Homo sapiens: one gene and its partners. The protein of the gene in region 4 purifies or fractionates together with the protein of the main gene of each other region. This does not show direct contact. Each region holds a gene or a part of one and is shown on either strand. Other genes may lie near its edges.

Region 1 (2,939 bases), on a different chromosome or scaffold from region 4:
TTAGCTGAGTTGATTCTGGCTTAGGCTGTCTCCTGAGGTTGTAGTTCATATGGCAACTAGGGTTGCTGCCATCTAAAGCCTTGACAGGCTGGGATAGCTGCTTCAGTGATCACTCATGCAGTTGTTGGCTGGAGCCCTCAGTTCCTCACCATGTAGTCCTCTCTTCATGATATAGCAGATGGTTTCCTCTAGAGTGAATGAATCCAAGAGAGAATAAGGCAGATGCTTTATTATATATAAAATATATTTTATAACCTAGCTATGGAAGTGACATATGTTCACTACTACCATATTCTGTTGGTGACACAGACCAAATACTATGGGGTGGAGGCTACGCAAGGGTACAAATAACTGGAGGTAGGGTTCATTGGGGGCCATCTTGGAGGCTGGCTACCATAGACACTTTTTCTGTCTTGTTTATTAGTATATTCTCAACATCAAGAATGGTGCTTTGCATATGTATGGTAGGTAAATATTTATTGATTAAGTGGGTGGATGGATTTAGACTACAGATGAATTTAAAATGGACCTTTAGAGAAAAGACTATTCATGGAGCCATAAGTTGCCCTGGGGTGGGAGTGGAAGGTGATGTCAAATGTAGAGAAAGGTGAATTCACTCTGTTTTTGGTTATATCTTTCCTGCAGATGTGGAAACATGAGGGCTTTTTTGCACTCTATAAAGGATTTTGGCCAAACTGGCTTCGGCTTGGACCCTGGAACATCATTGTATCCTTTGAGAGAATGAAAGCAAGTGCTTCAAGCTCCCAGATAATTCTAGGCTATGGGAAGGAAAATTTGATTATTAAAGCCTTTTAGGCTAGTGAGAAACTCAAGCATCCCATTGGTGACCCTTGAGAATCAAATTAAGCAAAGAAACAGCTTTCAGTTGGAGGCTAATACAAACTAAAAGGGATAGAAAAGATATGTCAAACTTTACTCTTTAAAACAAAATGACAACAAACACAGCTAATCTGGAAGGGGCTATGAAGTTTTTAGAAACCCTGATGGACGAAGCCTACAGGAAAGTCCATGCTGAGGTGGTTCAGATTTCCTACCCCTAACTATAGGACCAAAATAGCTGGGAAATAAAAACAGGACAGAAGACATTCATGGGGTGAAGGAATCCACAGCCAAGCAGGCTTCTTTCTTCATGGGTGAATCTGTCTCCTCCAGTTGTGTTTGAGTGCCTCCTAAGTGCAGAGCCATGTATTGGATACTGTGTGTGGTGTTGTGTGTATAATGGTAAGCACCGCAGGGTTGGAAAGTAATTCTCTGCCCTTGTGGGGTCTGTAGACAGAGAGAGGGTATCTCGTTCCCTCTTGGAATCACTCTGATCATCTAATTAATTATATGTCGTCACTGATGTTCTTGGTTACTGTGTGTGTGTGCGTGTGTGCGTTTGTCCTGTTTCCCCCTGAAGACTATAAATATATTAGAGTTTTACTCTGTTTATGTTGTTCGATGCCAGTGATCTGAATGGGCACATGGTAGGCACTCAATGCATGCTTGATTTGACAGGTGGTGTTTTATTTATTTATTTATTTATTTTTATTTTTTTTTTTGAGATGGAGTCTTGCTCTCTCGCCCAGGCTGGAGTGCAGTGGCGCGATCTCGGCTCACTGCAAACTCCACCTCCTGAGTTCACGCCATTCTCCTGCCTCAGCCTCCCGAGTAGCTGGGACTACAGGCACCCGCCACCACACCCGGCTAATTTTTTGTATTTTTAGTAGAGACAGGGTTTCACCATGTCAGCCAGGATGGTCTCGATCTCCTGACCTCGTGATCCACCCACCTCGGCCTCTCAAAGTGCTGGGATTACAGGCGTGAGCCACCGCGCCCGGCTGTCAGGTGGTGTTTTAGAAAAGATTTTAAAGCAGATGCAGCTTGGAATAGCATAGACTACCTTAATTTAAGAGAATGCGATGCTAATTTTAGAACTAGCTTTGGCTTTCGATATCAACCTGGTGATCTTCCTTGACTTACTCCTCAGTTTTTTATTACATACGAGCAGCTAAAGAGGCTTCAAATCTAAGAACTGAATTATATGTGAGCCCAGCCCTGCCAGCCTTTCTACTCCTTTGCCCTTTTCCCGTGTTCTAATGTATTTTGACAATGTTGTAAGTGTTTACCAAGCCGTTGGTCTCCTAAGGGCCTCCTGATGGAAGAACAGTGGGGTGGTTCAAAGTTATTTCTATGTTTGTGTTACCATGTTAACTTTTCCCCGAGAGAAAGTGTTAACATTGAGACTCTGGCCCCAGATTGGTATCTTCTATGAAGATGGATACTGATGGGTGACATTGAAAACGGCCTGCTTTCCAAATGTGGTTAAATGTAATTGGTTAGCCCCAGACTTGGGCTAGAGCAGAAGGCATAGGCCAGGGTGGTTATTGCTATATGTGTTACAGACCTCGGTTCTCATTAAAGTATTTATTGGCAGAATCACTTTGGCTTTGTCTTCATTTACTATTTTCTCCTTTGCCAACTCTTGAAGTTACATTCTCCAGAGAATAATAAAGGAAGATAACTATGAAATTGAGACTGGACTCTTAAAGTGCACTTTTATGAGACGAGAATGAGTGCATTGTGCTTTCCCACTGCCATTCATTGTCATAATGCCACTGCTAAACGTTGGGCAGGTGGTTCTTTCTTAAACATGAATAAACAAGCAAGTGGCTCATTTGGAAGTTCCTACAGGTAAAAAGCTAAAAAAAGGCTTAAAATAGAAGCCTGTTCCCAGGGTTCTAATCATCTTACAGGTACAAAGTTCTGGCTACTTTTTTTGTACTGAAACAGAGCCCGGCTCATTGTAGGCACTCAAATATTTGTGGAATTAATAGTTCTTCATCTTTATCCATTCATTAATTTGTTCAACATTTATTATGTATCTATTATGTCTAGGACTATAAAATGACTAAGACATAGTGTCTGTTTTCAAGCTC
Region 2 (3,500 bases), on a different chromosome or scaffold from region 4:
ATTTAACCTTTTCAACCATCAAAATTTAATTTTGGTCCATAGTCTCAGTGAGATCAATCCTTTTTTTTCATCCTAAACAATCATCCCACTGAACTGGAATTACACGTTAATAGATACAGCCTTTTTCATTGTTGTTGTTAATTCAGACCCATTTTTTCACTTTGTATCTTTTCCATTAATAAATTTGTCTGCCTTCCTGGATGCAATAACTCACTGTTTTTACTGTATTTTATAATATGGATTAATACCTGGAAGTGGTGATTCTCCTTTACTACTATTAATTTTCAATTCCTTTTTTGCCATTGCCAGTGGAATTCTTATTTCAAATAAACTTAATTTAACTGTATTATGTTTTCCTTGACTACTAAAAAAAAACTATTTTTAAAATCATATTAACTTTATAAATTTATCTGACAAAAACTGACACCTTTTTAATTTTTAGTTTTTCTGTCACAGGAAAAATGCTTTTCTCTTTACTTTAAAATTTTTTGTATTAAGTCCTCAGCAAAATCACTTGTCTTCATTAGAGGTCTAGTTTTCTTAGACTGAATCTTTCTTTTTATTTATATTATATTTTTAACAGATTGTTTCTGGATATTTATATTTGTATATTTGTTTATTTTATAAATGATTGTATTTTACAAATGATCATCTTTCTAAACTCTTATAATAGCCTATTTTTTGCAGTACATTCCGTTGGAATTTTTAGACACACAAAGACAGTAATTTAATCATATCTCATTTCTCCACCTGCCTTATTTATTGCTTTGGCCTTACCGTTCTCAGGTATTAAATGAGGGTTCCGAGTGGGCATCTTTCTTTTTTATTCAGTAGGAAGTTCAACATTATGCCTTTTATTAAGTATCTATCAAGCTCTAAGCCACGATTAAGAGTAATTTGCTAGATATTTATGGCTTTTTAAAATCAATTAATTTATTTTTATTGATACATAATAGCTGTACAAACGTTTGCAGTACGTATGATAATTTAATACATTTATATAATCAAATCAGAGTAATTGGGATATCCATCACCTGAAATATTTATCTTTACATTAGAAACAATCGAATTGCTGTCTTCTAGCTATTTTTAAATGTACAAACTATTAATGTTAACTATAGTCACCTCCTTGTCTATCAAACACCAGGTCTTAACGTCTTCTATCTAAGTGAAGAGTGGGCATCTTTCTCTTCATCCTGATCCTAATATAAGTTTCACTGTTGTGATATCATCAAGTCAGATATTGGCTGTGACTTTGAGTCAGATATTCTTTAACATACTAAAGGACACGGGTCCTATTTGACTAATGTTTTAGAAGTTGGTATTGAATGTTATTAAATGTCTCTTGGACATCCATTGGGATGATCATATGTTCATTTTTCAGACATAAATGTGATAAGTTATCTTAATAGATCTCATTTCCTAATATATAATTATCCTTTTGTTCCCAAAATAGGCTCTACTTATTTGTTGTGTATTATTTTTAGAACATATGACTTGCTAATGTAATTTTTAGGCTTTTGAAGCTAATTTTTTCAAGTGTCATAAATTCATTATTGTTTTGAAATTTTGTCCAATTTTGACATCATAGTTATGTTTATAAAATAATAGTTTAATAAGAGAAAATTTCACTGATTTTTTTCTGCTCTAAAAATGATTTGTTAAATGAAACTTTAGAATAATTCTGCCATCACCTCTTTATTATGCACATAGAGATGAGTCATGACACAGATAATCTGGAACTGTTGACAACTTCCCAGATTCTTTACAACTTTAATATGTATTCTTTCACTCTATCAGTTGCAATATGTGTGAACGTTCATCTGATGCACTGAGTCTGAGGAAAATTTTGACCAGTAACCTTTGTCCACTGGAAAAGAGTCTATGTAGAATTAGATGTTAATTGTAAGTAATCACAGAAGTGCAAATTATAAAAAAGAAATTTTTTGTACAAATTAAAAAGCAGGAAAAGGAATAATAGAATCCTCTTTTAATGAGGCATGGAGAAGTCCATTCTCAAAAACATGGCTTAGTAGTATAAGCTGGTTTAAGCTTTCTGAAGGGCATTTTAGCAAGGCATCAAAGAAAAATTTTCCAATGAGGACATCATTTGTCCCAGGAATTCCTCTCATAAGAAAATCACTGATCATGGCTTCAAAGATTTCACCACAATGATGTTTATCAAAACATTATAAGGGTGAAAAATTAGAAAAAACATAAATGTGCCCAAAAGGGGAATGGTTAAATACATTATATTCTAATATATTGTATTAGATATTATATTCTAATATATTGTATTAGATATTATATTCTAATATATTGTATTAGATAGTGTATCATATTAGAAATTAGATATTAGAATTAGAAATTAGAAATTAGATATTAGATATTGTATCATAATATTCTAATATATGCTTTATATATTAGAATGATATATTTAATATATCATTCTAATATATCTAATATATATTAGAATGATATATTTAATACATTAGATATTAGATATATTAGAATAATATAAATAATATATCTAATATATGTTAGATATTAGATATTTTGTATATACTATATTTATATATAATTATATATTATATATTAGATATATTATATTATATTAATATTTAACATATATTATACAAATATATTATTCTAATATATTTAATCAAAGGAATTTGAGACAGCTGTTATAATTAAGGCAGATACATATTAAATGAAATCAATATACTGTATGTCAACAATATATTTGAAGTGGAAAAGCAGACTGCACACCCACCAGTTGGCAGTGATTATTTCTGGACTTGGGGATTAGAGGTAATTTTTTTCTTATCTGTGTTTCCTGCATTTCTACAATGACTCTCTTCCAAGGGAATACAGTCACAAAAGTGGACTGGGATCAACTTTACTTTACAATCTTACTTTCTTACCCCAAGTATAGATAAACTCACAATAAGGCTTGTGTTTTTGATACTCAGACCTGGCTATGCAAATAAATATGGGGATGTATGAATACAACGGGAAGAGTGGCTACAGATTGAAGCCAGAGTTCATGAGGAGGCCTGACAAGCATTTTGATCCATTTACTGAAGGCATCGTAGATGGGATAGTGGCAAACACTTTGTCTGTTAAGGTAGGTATACCCCATCACAAAATTGTTCCTAACAATAGTGTTGAATTTATCTACATTGCATAAAGAAGTGGCTTAGTCATTAAAAATTTAGTAACTAGGAAAGATTCTACTTTCTTCCTACATTTTTTTTCTCTAAAGATCAAATACACATTAAAAGTTTTCGTAAGGGGTCCGTGTGTTCTCATTGTTCAATTCCCATCTATGAATGCACACGGGAAGGGGAACATCACACTCTGGGGACTGTTGTGGGGTGGGGGGAGCGGGGAGGGATAGCATTAGGAGATACACCTAATGCTAAATGACGAGTTAATGGGTGCAGCACACCAGCATGGCACATGTATACATATGTAACTAACCTGCACATTGTGCGCAT
Region 3 (2,334 bases), on a different chromosome or scaffold from region 4:
ATCTTATCCCGAGGGACCAACAGCAGGCATACCTTTGCCAGGCCTTCTTGCAGAAAGACACAGAGCCGTAAAGGCAAAAATAAAATTGCAATAAAGTATATGGTATTGGGGGCAGGGAGAACCAGAAACCCTCAAAGAGAACCAATTTGTAGCACGTTCTTTTTTAAGGCTCTACCCCTGTAGAAGTAAGAAACTAGCCTGCCTTTTTAGCCATATGAGAGTTTCCTCCAGAGCCATCTTCCAAAGTGGCAGACTTGGCCAAGTTGCCCAATGCCAAATAAGTGAGTTGGAAGTTCGTTTGCTTCAAACACACTGCACTTAGAAACCAGACTTGAAATAATCGAAGCCCCACAGAAAAGCTTCATGAAACGAAGTGTTACTTTCCTAGAGAATAAGAAAGTCACAAGATTGAGGAGTCTGTTCTAAAGTTCTTTGCTCCTTGATGTCGAAGTTAACACAAACACAATCTTAGCTTAACGAAACTAAGTAATTTTTGTTTATGATTATAGAACTGCAGGATTCACAAGTAGTATTAGAGACATTCCACACTGCACACTCCAGTCATATCTCTTAACAAAATGACATAAATTGACAATGTTCACTAACAGTATTTGCTGTTACACTGAAAAGGCACATCAATGTTGTCATGCTTAGAAAAATACACAACACTGCACACTGGATGATATAGTTAGCACATACATTTTTAGATGTTCCATTTTTCTTTTCTGCCTGATCACTATTATTTTTACTTCTTAATATATGATTCAAGACATAATTTCATTCTTCATTTTCATTTAAAATTTGTCTTCACATTGATGTGAACAACTTTCAGGAGTCTAAAAAATAGTAGTTTCAGACAACCTAAAATAAATATATTCCTAGAAAACACTTGGATGACCTGCAAACAGATCAAAGATATAGTCAGATATTAAAGTCAGAGCAGCTGTTTTCAGCTTCTTGTTTCCTTTTCTAAAACTTGAAGTAGATGGCGATTAACCTTATCATGTTTAAACAACCTTGACAGTATAAGGTACATGTACCCTCAATTTTCTTCATCCAGTAAGACAAGTATGCATCTTAAAGGGAAAGCTTTTAGTTCATAACAATATGTTTGGTTGCTTTTCTCTGCTTTCGGAACATTTACTGTTTTTCCTTTATTGGCTTTAGTGTTTGCTGCCAACCAGATAACATGTTAACATATAATTTACAACTCTCTCTAGGTAGGTGATTACATAGAAAACTAATGCCAGCTAAGATTTATGGATTCAAAAGATAACTGACACAAGTTCTTGTCCTCTACACTTGAGAGAACTAGCTGTTTAACGCATAAATATATTGATAGTAACTACAAGTTAAATAACATTCAGTGTCACTATATAACATGCTGTCTTACTTGATTCTGTTTTTCAGACTTCATTCTAGTTTCTCTTTGTTGGAAGAGTCTCAGAGATAATGTGTGCTTTAATTTTAAACACTCATTACCAATATGATTTTTGCCCAAATGTTTGTTAATGTAAGTTAAAAAATTATATTTGGTTTGGATTCAAATATTTATAGATTTACACAATACCTATTTCATCAAAATATATTGTATGATATTTAATAAAATTAAATACATAAAATAAAGTTTCAACACTATTTATACAAACCCCTAGAAAAGCTTCTTTTTCTTTATAAGGCTGTTGGCAATCGACCATAACCATGGAAAGGAAATAATAACCTTTGGTTTTACTCTTTCACCAGGGATGGATGGTATGACTAAGACAGTTCTGGATGAGTTGTGTCACTGGAAACACTGTTTTATACAATTAAACACTTTGATGATTTTTGAGGATCTCATCTCAGTCACTTTCAGATTCTTCATCTTCACCTATCGGATATGACTGGATATTATTCTGAGTGTACATTTTTGTTTTAATAGGGCAGTTGTGATCCATGAGAATAGCCTAAAAGAGAGCAAAGTGCAAGTATATTAACTTCTTGTTTCATAAAGATAAGATGGTTTTAACCTACTGTTTTTAAGGATTATTAGTTTGAAAACTATGTAGTATTACTTGCTATTAACCAGTCATTTGGAGCAATCGCCAGACGCCTGACCTAAAAGACCTGTAGTTCTACACTCTAAAAATTCCAGGCAATTGGAGACAGAAGTGGTCTCTGCAGTATTTTCATTATACCTGTCAGGGGCCATAAGTCCACTCTGGGAACTTATACTCTATGAAGCAAGGGACAGGCAGGTTAGGTTTGTTATACTTAGAATCTTGGAATTGGGGTATGGGGATCCTGGAGGTCACCCAGTCCAACTTCTGTTTACAGACGTCATTGTAGCAACAC
Region 4 (3,500 bases):
GCCTTTAAGGTGCAGGATAATCTGTGGTGGCATTTCACTCCATCAGACCAGACAGAGGAGGTGAGGACTAGGGAATTGGGTCTTTCCCTGGGGGCCTCAAATCATAACAGGTAGGAGACCCCATCTTTGCTACACACAAAGGCAACCTTGCATCTGATTAAAGCAGAATATCATGGAAGGAGGGTTTCTTGACCCTGCATCATGACTGTGTTCATAGCAGCACTCCAGGGTTGACCAGTTATGGTTTCTGCGCGGCAGGAATCTGCCATTCTTTGCCTATAAAACTGACAGTGGCCTGGCCTTTCCCACTCTGAATTGGATTGCTTAGGACTTTTTGTTTGTTTGTTCATTGTATTCTCTTTGTTAGGTTGGTTGGTGGCTGATTTTGCCCTTAAATCTATTTTGTCATGCTTGCCTGTATTGAACCTCATAGAATGTTTTGAAGAATTTCGTTTTCCAATTTGCTGAGTTATTTTAATTCTTATTCCACTGAGCCTTTAAATGTACAAGTAGTTTTATCTCTTGATAAAAATTAAAGTGACCCTGGGCCGAGTGCAGTGATTCATGCCTGTAATCCTAGCATTTTGGGAGGCCAAGGCGGGTGGGTCATCCGAGGTCAGGCGCTGGAGACCAGCCTGGCCAACATGGTGAAACCCTGTCTTTACTAAAATTACAAAAAGTATCCAGGCATGGTGGCACATGCCTGTAGTCCCAGCTACTTGGGAGGCTGAGGCCAGAGAATCACTTGAATTCAGGTGGCCTAGGTTGCAATGAGCTGAGATCCTACCATTTCACTCTAGCCTGGGCTACAGAGCAAGACTCTGTCTAAAAAATAAATCAATAAATAAATAAATAAATAAAAATAAGCCTGGGCAACATGGCAAAATCCAGTCTCTACAAAAAGATACAAAAAAAAAGTAGCTGGGCATGGTGGCACATGCCTGTAGTCTCAGCTACTTGGGAGGCTGAGGTGGGAGGATCACCTGACCCTCAGAAATCGAGGATGCAGTGAGCCATGATCATGCTTCTGCATTCCAGCCCAGGCGATAGAGTGAGACTGTGTCAAAAAAAAAAATTTTTTTTTATTAAATTGAGCCAAAGCACCAGACTTAAGTTATTGATTTAATTTCCTGTCTTTGGTAAAATTCTTTGGGAGACTTTACAAAGGAATTACTCAGAAGAAGTTTAGATGGTCACACATGGCTGAAAGGTCTCCCAGGACCACGCTTTTGCAGCTCTTTCATACCTGGTGTTCACTCTTATGGAAGATTCATTTAAAGATGGATTGTAGTTAGGGTGAGTCTAGTTTCTTAGGATTTTTGGTGATGATCTCTGATATTGAAAAAGTGGTATGGTTATCTTAGTCCCTGGATCATCCAGATCTTTCTAATAAGTTGATGTTCTCCAAGTACTATAAGAAAATCACCCAGCCTGGGCAACATGTTAGCCAAGAATGGTGGAAAATGCCTGTAATCCTAGCTAGTTGGGAGACTGAAGCAGGAGGATCTCTTGAGCCCAGGAGTACAAGGCACAGTGAGCTATGATTTTGCCACTGCACTCCAACCTGGACAGCAGAGCTAAAACCCTGTCCCTAAAACAACAAAAGCAATACTGCCTAATGGATGGAGCCTCTGGGAGGTAAACAGTGTGAATTAGGATTAGAGTTGGATTTGCAGGCTAGATCTGTCAAGTCTCCTAAAAACCATCACCTCCTATGGGTGGTAGAAAGCGGTGGTTATGTGAAGTTCTGAACTAGACAGAAGGGTCAATGTCTTTGGATCAAAAGGTTTCTTAGGATTCTGCCCGCCTGGCAGACTTTCGTCCTTCTCGTTATTATTCTAGAGCTTCTGGAAGCTGAGGTCTACTGAGAAGTCGTCCCAGAAGCAGAAAGTGAAATCCAAAACCTGCCTGTTTGAAGTTGGAGTCGACACACCCATCTCAAAGTGAGAAAATTAGTCTGGCAGGATAAATTGAACAAGCATTTATGGCAGACAGATAGATGCTTGGTGCTGTGATGGGGCCTATAGGTGGACCGCAAAGAAAAGGGTGCAATGGGATCCTTTCCTCTTAGAGAGCTCACAGTTTATGTGGCCCATTGGCCTGCTGGTGTTCTCCAACATCAATGTTCTTTCTTCCTTACCCTCATCCTTTTTTTCTTCCTTCCTATTTCTTGTTTCCTATCTCCCTCTTTTTTACCTTTACTTTCTAGCTTCACAGAAGAGATGCAATAGGCACAGAAGAGATGCAAAAGGCACTGACTTTTGCCTGAACCCTGATATCTCTCCACAGGACTAGGCTCTAAGCCCCTCATTTCAATGAGGGGCCATGAAGACGGGGGCATCCGGCTGGAGTGCATATCTAGAGGGTGGTACCCAAAGCCCCTCACAGTGTGGAGGGACCCCTACGGTGGGGTTGCGCCTGCCCTGAAAGAGGTCTCCATGCCTGATGCAGACGGCCTCTTCATGGTCACCACGGCTGTGATCATCAGAGACAAGTCTGTGAGGAACATGTCCTGCTCTATCAACAACACCCTGCTCGGCCAGAAGAAAGAAAGTGTCATTTTTATTCCAGGTTAGTTCTCTGCCCTCTGAGACTCGTCGAGTGCATGGGGGATCCTCAGCACACAGATGGAGCCCAGAACGGGGATGGGGGCAGCAGTGTGGGTGAAATAGTCCTGGGCCCTAAGGACCTGGAGGCTGCAGCTGAGTGAAGCCTTTCCGCTTCTCACAAAAGGAGAATCAAAGTGTCCCAAAACTCAGGAGTAGGAGCCTCTTCTCTGAGGGTAAACCTGTTTTTGTTGTTGTTGTTGTTGTTGTTGTTGTTTTTCCCCCCAATAAGGTCCTTACACTGCTGCAATTTTTTTTTAAGACAAGTTCTTGCTCTGTCACACAGGCTAGCATGCAGTGGCACAATCTTGGCTCACTGCAACCTCCTCCTCCCAGGTTCAAGCAATTCTCATACCTCAGCCTCCCGAAGGCTAGGACTACAGGCACACGCCACCACACCCGGCTAATTTTTGTATTTTTAGTAGAGATGGGGATTTCACCTTGTTGACCAGGCTGTTCTCGAACTCCTGACCTCAAGTGATCCACCTGCCTCAGCCTTCCAAAGTGCTAGGATTACAGGCGTGAGCCACCATACCCGGCCAGCAATTTTTAGACATTGAAAACAACCATAACATATGGAGGGTGGTGTGGATAAGTGACTCTCTACACTTGGTGTTCCTGTATGCTGTAGCCATCCCTTCCTGTGCAGGGGATTTTCCACAGGACAGAGCTGTGGAAATTCCCTATAGACACACACTCACAATTCATTCAACAAATGGTCAAGAAGCATATCGTATGTTCAAAACACTGTTCTACCAAGGGTAAATCATTGAACAAATTATATTAAGAACTCTTCCCTCAAAAAGTGATTAGTTAGCTAACCATATATTCTATCAGATGGTAATGAACATCTATAGGAAACATTAAGCAAGGAAGGAATAAAGAGGCAATGTG
Region 5 (2,805 bases), on a different chromosome or scaffold from region 4:
AATCTCGGAAGATGAGAACAATGAGTAGGTTAATAAAGGAATTAATGAGGGTTCTGAACTAAGACTTTAATAGAAAAGACAGAGACAAATGTATGCATTTGTGATAAGTAATATGTCAAAAGATGAACTTGGGTTTCTGAATGAATAGTGGCTTTGTTCACTGAGATAGATAATACACAAGAATGAGCAGGTATGGAGGGAAAAGATGACAAGCTGAGTTTGAATTTACACATAATGAATTTTAAGGCATGGTGAGATATCTGATTGAAAATGACCAGAAGATCTTTGGGAGATCAGGAAAGAGATCCTAGTTCAAGCCACAAAGGAATAAATATTTTACCAGGATTTCTTACTTAGGTATCATTGATGGGCTTTAAGTTCTTAAGTCCCTGAAACTGTACACACATTTTTGTGTGTGTGTGCAGGTGAATATGCAGCATGCCTAACTTATTTTCCCTCCTTCTCTTATTCCCCACCCCATGTTAAATATGACAGCTGTCTTTTGCAAGTATCTTTATTCTTTTATTATTCATTTTATTTTCATATAAATTAACATCCTAGAAAAATTGAAATAGAAACACTAAATACAGTATTGCACATAGCGATCTTTGTTAAATGCCCTATTATTTCATTGGAGAATGGTAATATACACACTGGAGGGACTGAAGGGGACAGGAAGACTACAAAACAATAGAAAAAAAACCACTACTGTTTCTTTGCACTTAAACTACAAACTAAAAAGTAAGAGACCATACTTTACATAAATACAAACAATTATGATTTAGAACATTGGTTTTCTTAAGTTGCTTTCCATAATTGGTTTGCAAGAGCAATAAATTCTCCCCTTTATCCACAACTATAACTTGCAACGAAGATCATTAAAAGTAATGGAAAAAAACACCCAGCTCATACAAAACCATCACAATGCATTACGAGCTGACCCAAGTCATTATATGACTTCAGTAAAAAAAATGACCATTTTCTTTCACAAATACATAGTTATGGAGAGCAACCCAAGAGTTGGGAAAGCACTGATTATAAACGGTTCTTAAATTTTAAAATAGAAAATTTATACTTAGACATGAAACTGATACAAACAATTCACTAGAAATAACATTTTACCCATATGTCTAAATGCTGTGATGTGGAGGACTGGTTGTCAGTAGAAAGGAAAGTGTTTTTGCTGTGACGAGGAATATTCTCACAACAGTGAATTGTAGTTAATGTTTAGCATGTTGAGAATTAGTGCAGATACTGCCTCTTACACATGCTGTTTTGGTCTATCGGTATAATACCATAAACTTTTACAAAAAGAAAAGGTGTCAAATTCTCCACTGGTCTAGTACGTTTGCATTTTTATATGAATATACAGTAAAATTCAACAATTAGTGAACTGTCTAGAAAACAAAAAGATTATGCAAGAGGTCAAGAAGAAACATGAGCAGAATGACGGTAGTTTCCCTCCCACTCTCAGGTCAGCTGAATTTTGTGAAAGTCGTTGCAATGACTCATTTTCATTCTGCTTTTCATTGTTCAAGTTTTCATGCTTATCTTTGCTTTCTGAAAACAAATACACCAGATAAAAGTTTTAGTTAGAAAGAACTTTTAAAAATGGAAAGAATTTAGAGTAGCCTAAAAAAGACCTTTTCATTTGGATCAAATTCTGTGGGACAAGGTTAAAGGTCTACCAGTCCATAAAGGAAAAAAGTATAAGTGGGATCTGTGTTATCTTTGAGCACTTTTATCAAGACAAATCGCCAAATACTTTTGAGAAAAAAAAAAGTTTTAAAAATTTAACTTCTAACCAATATGAGAGGGTGTCAAACTCTCCATTCTCATCCTCAATCCTACATGCAAATACATAAATATGAAAACTGAAGTGGCTGCTTCACTTCATGGTAAATGTACTCTAATTATCTTCTGTACTCATAATAGCAAGATTGAGGTTCACTAATAAGTAACTATTCCTCCACATTCAATACAGTTATAAGACTGAATCATCAGGAGCAGAAGATAAGCTGAACTATCATGTAGTAGTTATCATTAGATAAGATCATTTTGATACAGAGAAACTGAAGGCACCACTGCTTCTAAATGAAGATATAATTCCTAACTTTTTAAAAAAAAACAGGGCTATTTAATCATATCCCAATTTGGGTTATTTTAATGTCTTTTCCCTTTAGACTACATTAGACTAATTCAATTTAGAATGGTCCTATCCTAAGGCCTAACTCAACTTTTCATTTAAAACATTTACTTACACTGTGGTACCAAGTGATAATCCCTCAAAACAGTCAACAAAACATCCTCAGTATCACAAGGAAAAGCCTTGTCATTTTAACCAAGCCCTTCCCTCCCAGGGTGGATAACCTGGCATTTTGTTTTAAAGCGGGGAGTGGGCAAGCAGGAAACTTAAATGAGCTTGTTAAACTCCGTCTCTGGACTGACCACTCTCCGGCAGCCAACTCTGCCGAGCCATCTGTGGATATAAACGGGGTCTGGGCACCCTGGGCAAAGCGTCACACTGCTCTTGGCGCTTCCCACCAACTTTACATCCCAGTGGATCTAATCCAATTAGAATGATCACTCGTGGCTCAAATACAGCCTCTGCCGTGATCTGTGTGTAACAAAGAAAGTGAAAGATGGTCTCCCCACCCTGCCCCTGCCAACATGCACATATCCACATAAATGCACACCCTCAGTAGATTCAGTAGATTTATCTTAATTTTTTTTTTTTTTTTTTTGAGACAAAGTCTCACTCTGTTGCCAGGCTGGAGTGCAGTGTTGCAATCTTGGCTCACTGCA
Region 6 (3,500 bases), on a different chromosome or scaffold from region 4:
TAATGAAAATTTTTAAATGATGACAAATTTAAGCCACTGAACAAGCTAATTTGTGAACACTTTATCACACATTAAAACAATATTGTCCTTCCAAATAACATGGGCAAAAAATGAACAGGGCCTCACACTGATCTAAGCTCCATTGGTAATGGTGCCGAGTCTCATAAAGAGAATGCCCCAATCATTTGCTTCATCTGAGAAAAGCCATCTGGTCAATCTTTCAAAACATAATCGCAAGGCACATAGGATGTGCACCTTTGCTATCACAAATCTTGTTTAAAATAAACAACTAGGAACAGTAAGCAGAAATGGTTTCAGCACCTGCACCCTGTGGTCAAGGAATAGTAACAGCTGAAAACAAAGTTTTGGGGCAGGGTGAGCAACACAGTTAACAGCTCCTCCACAAGAAATTCCAGACACCACATCTCCAAGAGCAAACCAAGGAATCCCTAGAAAAGGAGGCTCTGGGAGACTGTTTCTAAAAGTGGGAAGAATGGAAACACCTGGTAGAGACTCAGAAATACGGGAGAGGTCAAATGCTATGATAATTATTTCTGTCTCTAGACAATGCTTGTTTCAAATAATATATGATTACCACAAAAGAGTCTTAATATCCTATTACAATTTTTCTTAAGAGAGTGGTGGCTTTTCCTACTGCAGACAAAACTGAATTAGCCAAATAGCAATTACCTTTCAAGATCTTCCTTTTCCTCCTCCTGTTCACATTTCTCAGTTCCAAACTTGGCTTTTAGTGACCGAGCTCTGGCAATGAGAGCTTCCACATTAGTAATCTGGTGAATGATTTCCTGGCGGTAGAAAAGGAAGAGGCATACATTGCGAGATGGCAAAAAAGCAAAGCCCTTTGAAAACGCATCTTAAAAATTATTTTTGCCAACTGAGGAGAACACTTGGCAAGATTCTGACACTACATCAAACTTACTTCCAATTTCTTGTCTTCTGGATTGGGGAAGTGCAAAACTTTACTGGAATGGGATATTATCTGCTTTATGATCTTCTTAACTGAAGAAATGTTTTCGAGACTTTCTATTTTAGAAAAGATTGAAGCCAGCATTAAATAAATTAAGCAAAATATACTTTCACTTTGGAAATGACTAATGACTAGTTAAATATGACATTTACCTTCTTCCTTTACCTTGAGTACAGCTGCATGAATCACACAAGGTAACAGGTGCCGAGCAAGGTCTGCAGGTTTCTGGATTGCCAGATAGTGCAGCACCTGAAGGAGGTGCAGCGCACACAAATGATCAGCGCAGGTGTCAAAGGATGAAGCAGCCACTTACAGAAGTGCAAATCCTCAGCCACTCATCTTAATCCTTAACAAGACAGCACTCCAGATAGGCAGCCACGACCCCAAAGGTGAGGATAATGTTACTGAAAGCACCTAAGAACTTCAATCTTTAATAATTATAAATATTCTATTTTTTTCTGCTTTCTTATGTAATACACACAAATAAGGAAAATACAAAGAAAATAAAAACTACCGACTGATTACAATACCAAGAGAAAACAACCATTGACAGTGGAGCATTTTCATTTTAAGACGCAGAATACACGTACTAAGGGCACTAATATTAAATATGTAAAATACTGCCTTTTAACCTGCTTTTCTCACTTAATATTTCTAAACATTGTTAGTGACTTCCCACACATTTTTTGGTTTTAGTTGTTTTGGTTTATTTTTTTTCCAATTCTTATTATAAGAATACAGAGAAGTATGTACAAAACATGGACCCTACCTTTAGGCTCCTTATTCAACAGTAAAGATAAAAGAAGTATAACCCTATAAATATGTACAATTCTTTTACATCAATAAAAATTTTAAGAAGTATAATCTCATAATGTGAGTCTGACTGATAAATGCTCATGGATTTCAAAATTTTAAAAAAAATACAGGTGATGCAGAAATTTTCCTGAAATCCTACTTCCCCAAAACCACATTTTCGTGTTTATCCTCTCAAACTACTTGTATGTCCATTTAAACACAAAAATGTAGATGCATATGTAATTTCTTAACAAAAATTAATAACTTACATACTGTTTTATTATTTGCTTTATTTAATGACTTGTGGTGGACTTTTTTTTGGCTTAGAGAGTTTTGTCTGATTTGAAACTTTTTTTAAATTAAGAAATATACATACTAGAGTATTAGAAATAGTTTAAAGAAAACACCAGCTTAGGAAACAGAATGTTACCAGGCTTTTCCAAGTCCTCCTGTGTACCCTCCATCCCCAGAATTAACTACAAATCATTCTTTTGCTTTTCTTTATGGTTTTTTTCACATATGTAGCCTTAAATAATATATTGTTTACTTTTGTCTAGTTTTAACCTTTATATTAATGGAGTGTTTCTGTTTATAGCCCTCAGTGACTTGCTTTTTTTCATTCAGTATTTTGATATTCGTATACCATTCCAATATGCTATAGTTTACTCATTTTCACTGCTGTATTAAAATGTTCCTACACTAATAGTAGTGGATAGCTCCTCAGTTTTTGGCTATTACAAATGATGCTCCTATTACATTATTGCACATATTTCCTGGTGCAAATGGGACATGTACAGCAATTACTTTAGGATATATACCTAACAATTGAACTAGGAAATGTACAACATAATTATCCTACAAAGTGTTTCAACAGATTTACATTCTTATCTAGAGTAATGAGTTCCCTCTGTTGTACATCCTTGCTAATACCCACCTTTCTGAATTTTGTTTTCCCCTGATTCACAGAAAAACAAATTTGCAGGAATAACGTGAAATATGTGATTCCCCTTTACCTGGATTCACGTATGACCTGTCTCCCTCCTCTGTTCTGGATCCCTTGCATCTTTCTCTGCTTTCATGTGTGTACATACTATAGACATAAACTTGTTTCGAATAATTTCAGAATAAGTCGCACACTCATGTCCCTTATCCCAAAATATCTGTATTTCCTAAAATTAAAAATATTTTATTATATAATCAAAATGCAAATGATTCTGATTATATACAATAAATTTAACACTGATAAAAATAATTGTAATCTAACCTACTATCTTTATTGCAGTTTTGTCAACTGATCCCATATGTGTCTTTTTTTTTTTTTTTTTTTTTTTTTTGAGACAGGGTCTTTCTCTGTTGGCCCAGACTGGAGTGCAGTGGTGCGATCTTGGCTCCCCACAACCTCCGCCTCCCAGGCTCAAGCGATTCTCCTGCCTCAGCCTCCTGAGTAGCTAAGACTACAGGCACATGGCCACTACTGCCCGGCCAATTTTTGTATTTTTAGTAAAGACGGAGTTTCACTATGTTGGCCAGGCTGGTCTCGAACTCCTGACCTCAAATTATCCACCTACCTCAACCTCCCAAAGTGCTGAGATTACAGGCATGAGCCACCGCGCCCGGCCGCAAAATGTGTCTTTTATGACCCTTTCCCTCAACCACTACAAGTCTTGGTAAGGATCATCCATTGCCTTTAGTTATCATAGCTCTTTAATCTCAACTA
Region 7 (3,500 bases), on a different chromosome or scaffold from region 4:
AAAGGGTGATATTCCACATGCTGCCCCTCAGCGCCTCCCTTTCCCTCACGCCTCATCCTGCAGTGACTGAGGCAGGACCTTTCCCTTGTGCGAGAGGCAGCCTAAATCAGAGCTCTACTCATTTCCTGCTTGATACCGCAGAGCGTTTGAGGTCATGCATATTTAAATATAAAATTGATACCATATTTCAGATGAATTATTTTGAAGGGAAAATACATTTGAAAGATAAATTTTGTTGGGAATGTTAAAAATAGCCATTTTTTAAAAACATGGGAGGCATAATACAAAATAGCCTTGTGTTTATAGCCCATCTTTCCACCCATGTCTTGCAGTTTTTATTATAGGGCTATAAAGGAAATTCTCTTATGTTCTTTGTTTTTTGGAACAAGCTGGCTGTCAAATACAAAATACCCCTTCATGTCGACGCTTGTCTGGGAGGCTTCCTCATCGTCTTTATGGAGAAAGCAGGATACCCACTGGAGCACCCATTTGATTTCCGGGTGAAAGGTGTAACCAGCATTTCAGCTGACACCCATAAGGTGAGCTAAGGAGGAGATCAAGTGTTACCAGTTGATTATTTTGACTATTATTGATAAAATAAATTGGTAGCTTCCCCGCAAAGTATAAAATTAACTATAGAATTCTCATCAGATGCTTGTTTTAAACTCTCTCTTTGCCGTCACCAGATCAGCTGGTTCAGGTGATGGGGTATAGTGGTAGAGGTGACAAGCAGTAGTGAAAATGAACCTGTTACCTTTATCTCAAATTGGCTAAGAGAATTTCTGTATCCACTGACTGTGTGTAACTAGAACATGCTAGTGTAGTGGCCCTTGTTAAAAAAGCTCCCTGAAGCCTTGAGCTGATTTGAGGTGGAGGGTAGAGGAGTGTGAGGGTTGGTAGTGGAGTTCCCATGCTGGTAGATAACATTAGAGCTGCTGTGCAACTGGGCTCCTGAGCGTACATGACGGGAAAATGTTGACGGAAGAGTCCTTTGGAAAATGGGAAGAACCTGTGTGCTCAGGAACATTCAGCATTTGAGATGGCCACGCCTGCCACCCTTGGTGGACTGAGACAAAGTCTAGATCAGTTGATAACGCTATTGAATATACATCCAGATGTGGAAGAAGTATTAGCAGCCTCAGGAATGTGTACCTTGTTTTGATTGCATTTTCAGAGCTTGTTTTAAACTCAAGTATATTAAAGACTTGTTTTTCAAAATCGGTGTGATCTGCAGCCGATTTTCAGTCAGCATCTGTTTTTTCCTTACCATCCAGATAGCTCCTGTGTCCTTTTCCCATAACCATCCATTTCTGGATGGTTCAGGTAATGAAATTAGTTCCACGTTAGTTTTAATAAGAGTTAATTAGGGGGTCAGATGTTCTATAAGGAAACCAGTTACATAGTTAATTTTAAAGCTGGATTAAGTAGCTTTTAGTTTCTGAGCACCATTATGTTCTCATAAGCATAATATTCTTAGTAATACTAAGCAAAAAAAGATGGGAAGGGGGTCAGATGGTGATTTTAACTTGAAGTGACAAATTCCATCCTTTCCTGGCTTCCATTGCAAACTTACCCTTGCTTTCATCCTGACATATGGTCTCCAGAGAAATATTTTAAATAAGGTAAACCACATGCTGGGCAAGAGAGGGAGTAAACCGATTAACTGGGCGCTGTTCTTCCCTGGGTCTCAGATTCCTCATTCCTAACAGAGAGAATTTAAACTCCATCCCTTAAGTTCCTACTATCCTTTAGCATTTTAAGTTTGAATCCTTAATGTGAGTGGGAAACATAACAGAGAAACTGAGAAATAAATAGGATTTCCTTTGCATGATGAGAGTTCTGGGACAAGGTCTGCCAGACAGAACTATACTCTCACTTTTCTTGTCTGCTACTTCTTCCACAGTATGGCTATGCCCCAAAAGGCTCATCATTGGTGTTGTATAGTGACAAGAAGTACAGGAACTATCAGTTCTTCGTCGATACAGATTGGCAGGGTGGCATCTATGCTTCCCCAACCATCGCAGGCTCACGGCCTGGTGGCATTAGCGCAGCCTGTTGGGCTGCCTTGATGCACTTCGGTGAGAACGGCTATGTTGAAGCTACCAAACAGATCATCAAAACTGCTCGCTTCCTCAAGTCAGAGTATGTGTGGAAGACTGGGGTTCTGCCTTGTCTATTGCTTTTTTGTCCTAGTAGGCTCAAGGCACCTGCCTGGCTAAGTATCCATAGCCCTAGCCCACCTGTTGTCTCCTGCGATATAGAGGGCTTAGGGCAGCAGCTTAGGGCTTAGGCCAGACCAGCTGGCCTGGGAGAAGAAGCTCCCTTTCTCTGCCCTGACTTTTGGAGGGTCTTTGAGACGGGGGCCTCATTTGTAGTTTATCTCATCTCTATGGATGTCTTAATAACTGGCAGCTCTTACCCTAAGGCTAATGTACAATTTAATGGTTAGGACAGTGATTCCCAAACTTGAGCATGCATTCTAATCACCTGAAGGACTTGTTAAAACACAGGTAGCTGGGCCCACCCCTAGAGTTTCTGATTCAGTGGAACTGGGATGGGCTCTAAAAATTTCCATTTCTGGAGATACTGATGCTACTGCTCCAGGAATCATACTTGAAGAATCATTGGAATAAGAAAATAATTGGAAATGGGCCAGAAGGAATGAGGAAAGGAGGGCAATGAAATCTTGGGTTAAGCCAAGGCCAGAACAGGCTGCATGCTTTGTCTAATGTATCTGTTAACATCTTATCTGCCCATCTCTCTATGTGTCACTTGGATTGGGGAGGCTCTTTAAGTATATTGAGGGGGAAGGAAAGCTGCCTGCAGGCATTTCTCATTTGAGAAAGATCCTTGGCCAGGCACGGTGGCTCCGGCCTGTAATCCCAGCACTTTGGGAGGCCAAGGCAAAAGGATCGCTTCAGCTCAGGAATTAAAGACCAACCGGAGCAACATAGTGAGACATTATCTCTACAACAAATTTAAAAATTAGCCATGAGGCCGGGCGCGGTGACTCATCCCTGTAATCCCAGCACTTTGGGAGGCTGAGGCGGGTGGATCACCTGAGGTCCAGAGTTCAAGACCAGCCTGACCAACAGGGAGAACCCCGTCTCTACTAAAAATACAAAATTAGCCGGGCGTGGTGGCGCATGCCTGTAATCCCAGCTACTCAGGAGGCTGAGGCAGGAGAATTGCTTGAACCCGGGAGGCAGAGGTTGCGGTGAGTTGAGATGGCACCATTGCACTCAAGCCTGGGCAACAAGAACGAAACTCCATCTCAAAAATAAAAAATAAATAAAAATAAAAATTAGCCACATGTGGTGGTGTGCACCTTTGGTCCCAGCTACACAGGAGGCTTAAGGCAAGAGGACTGCTTGAACAGCCCAGGAATTTGAGGTTACAGTGAGCTATGATCACACCACTGCACTCTAGCCTGGGTGACAGAGCAAGACCCTGTCTCAAATAAATAAGCAAACAAATAAATAAAAATTAGATATATATAA

The links.
Region 1: the proteins of BTN2A1 (region 4) and SLC25A14 purify together in Homo sapiens (affinity purification with mass spectrometry; 2 studies listed by BioGRID and IntAct, with this or other methods). This does not show direct contact.
Region 2: the proteins of BTN2A1 (region 4) and PLCB1 purify together in Homo sapiens (affinity purification with mass spectrometry; 3 studies listed by BioGRID and IntAct, with this or other methods). This does not show direct contact.
Region 3: the proteins of BTN2A1 (region 4) and PDZD8 purify together in Homo sapiens (affinity purification with mass spectrometry; 3 studies listed by BioGRID and IntAct, with this or other methods). This does not show direct contact.
Region 5: the proteins of BTN2A1 (region 4) and FMN2 purify together in Homo sapiens (affinity purification with mass spectrometry; 3 studies listed by BioGRID and IntAct, with this or other methods). This does not show direct contact.
Region 6: the proteins of BTN2A1 (region 4) and RAB3GAP1 purify together in Homo sapiens (affinity purification with mass spectrometry; 3 studies listed by BioGRID and IntAct, with this or other methods). This does not show direct contact.
Region 7: the proteins of BTN2A1 (region 4) and SGPL1 purify together in Homo sapiens (affinity purification with mass spectrometry; 3 studies listed by BioGRID and IntAct, with this or other methods). This does not show direct contact.

The regions. Positions count from the first base shown.
Region 1 is NC_000023.11:130,370,919-130,373,857, forward strand, and holds the end of SLC25A14 (brain mitochondrial carrier protein 1 isoform 1 precursor), read left to right. Parts: intron 1-645; coding exon 646-726; intron 727-1,990; coding exon 1,991-2,032; 3' UTR 2,033-2,439; downstream 2,440-2,939. UniProt on the Homo sapiens protein: Transports inorganic anions (sulfate, sulfite, thiosulfate and phosphate) and, to a lesser extent, a variety of dicarboxylates (e.g. malonate, malate and citramalate) and, even more so, aspartate and glutamate and tricarboxylates.
Region 2 is NC_000020.11:8,730,266-8,733,765, forward strand, and holds part of PLCB1 (1-phosphatidylinositol 4,5-bisphosphate phosphodiesterase beta-1), read left to right. Parts: intron 1-2,972; coding exon 2,973-3,127; intron 3,128-3,500.
Region 3 is NC_000010.11:117,276,774-117,279,107, reverse strand, and holds the end of PDZD8 (PDZ domain-containing protein 8), read left to right. Parts: 3' UTR 1-1,834; downstream 1,835-2,334. Other genes in the region: SLC18A2 (synaptic vesicular amine transporter), read right to left, coding at 1,842-1,946. UniProt on the Homo sapiens protein: Molecular tethering protein that connects endoplasmic reticulum and mitochondria membranes. PDZD8-dependent endoplasmic reticulum-mitochondria membrane tethering is essential for endoplasmic reticulum-mitochondria Ca(2+) transfer.
Region 4 is NC_000006.12:26,460,955-26,464,454, forward strand, and holds part of BTN2A1 (butyrophilin subfamily 2 member A1 isoform 1 precursor), read left to right. Parts: intron 1-2,289; coding exon 2,290-2,571; intron 2,572-3,500.
Region 5 is NC_000001.11:240,472,883-240,475,687, reverse strand, and holds the end of FMN2 (formin-2), read right to left. Parts: intron 1,561-2,805; coding exon 1,534-1,560; 3' UTR 501-1,533; downstream 1-500. UniProt on the Homo sapiens protein: Actin-binding protein that is involved in actin cytoskeleton assembly and reorganization. Acts as an actin nucleation factor and promotes assembly of actin filaments together with SPIRE1 and SPIRE2.
Region 6 is NC_000002.12:135,160,292-135,163,791, reverse strand, and holds part of RAB3GAP1 (rab3 GTPase-activating protein catalytic subunit), read right to left. Parts: intron 1,238-3,500; coding exon 1,141-1,237; intron 1,045-1,140; coding exon 941-1,044; intron 807-940; coding exon 691-806; intron 1-690. UniProt on the Homo sapiens protein: Catalytic subunit of the Rab3 GTPase-activating (Rab3GAP) complex composed of RAB3GAP1 and RAB3GAP2, which has GTPase-activating protein (GAP) activity towards various Rab3 subfamily members (RAB3A, RAB3B, RAB3C and RAB3D), RAB5A and RAB43, and guanine nucleotide exchange factor (GEF) activity towards RAB18.
Region 7 is NC_000010.11:70,871,448-70,874,947, forward strand, and holds part of SGPL1 (sphingosine-1-phosphate lyase 1), read left to right. Parts: intron 1-389; coding exon 390-539; intron 540-1,903; coding exon 1,904-2,142; intron 2,143-3,500. UniProt on the Homo sapiens protein: Cleaves phosphorylated sphingoid bases (PSBs), such as sphingosine-1-phosphate, into fatty aldehydes and phosphoethanolamine. Elevates stress-induced ceramide production and apoptosis.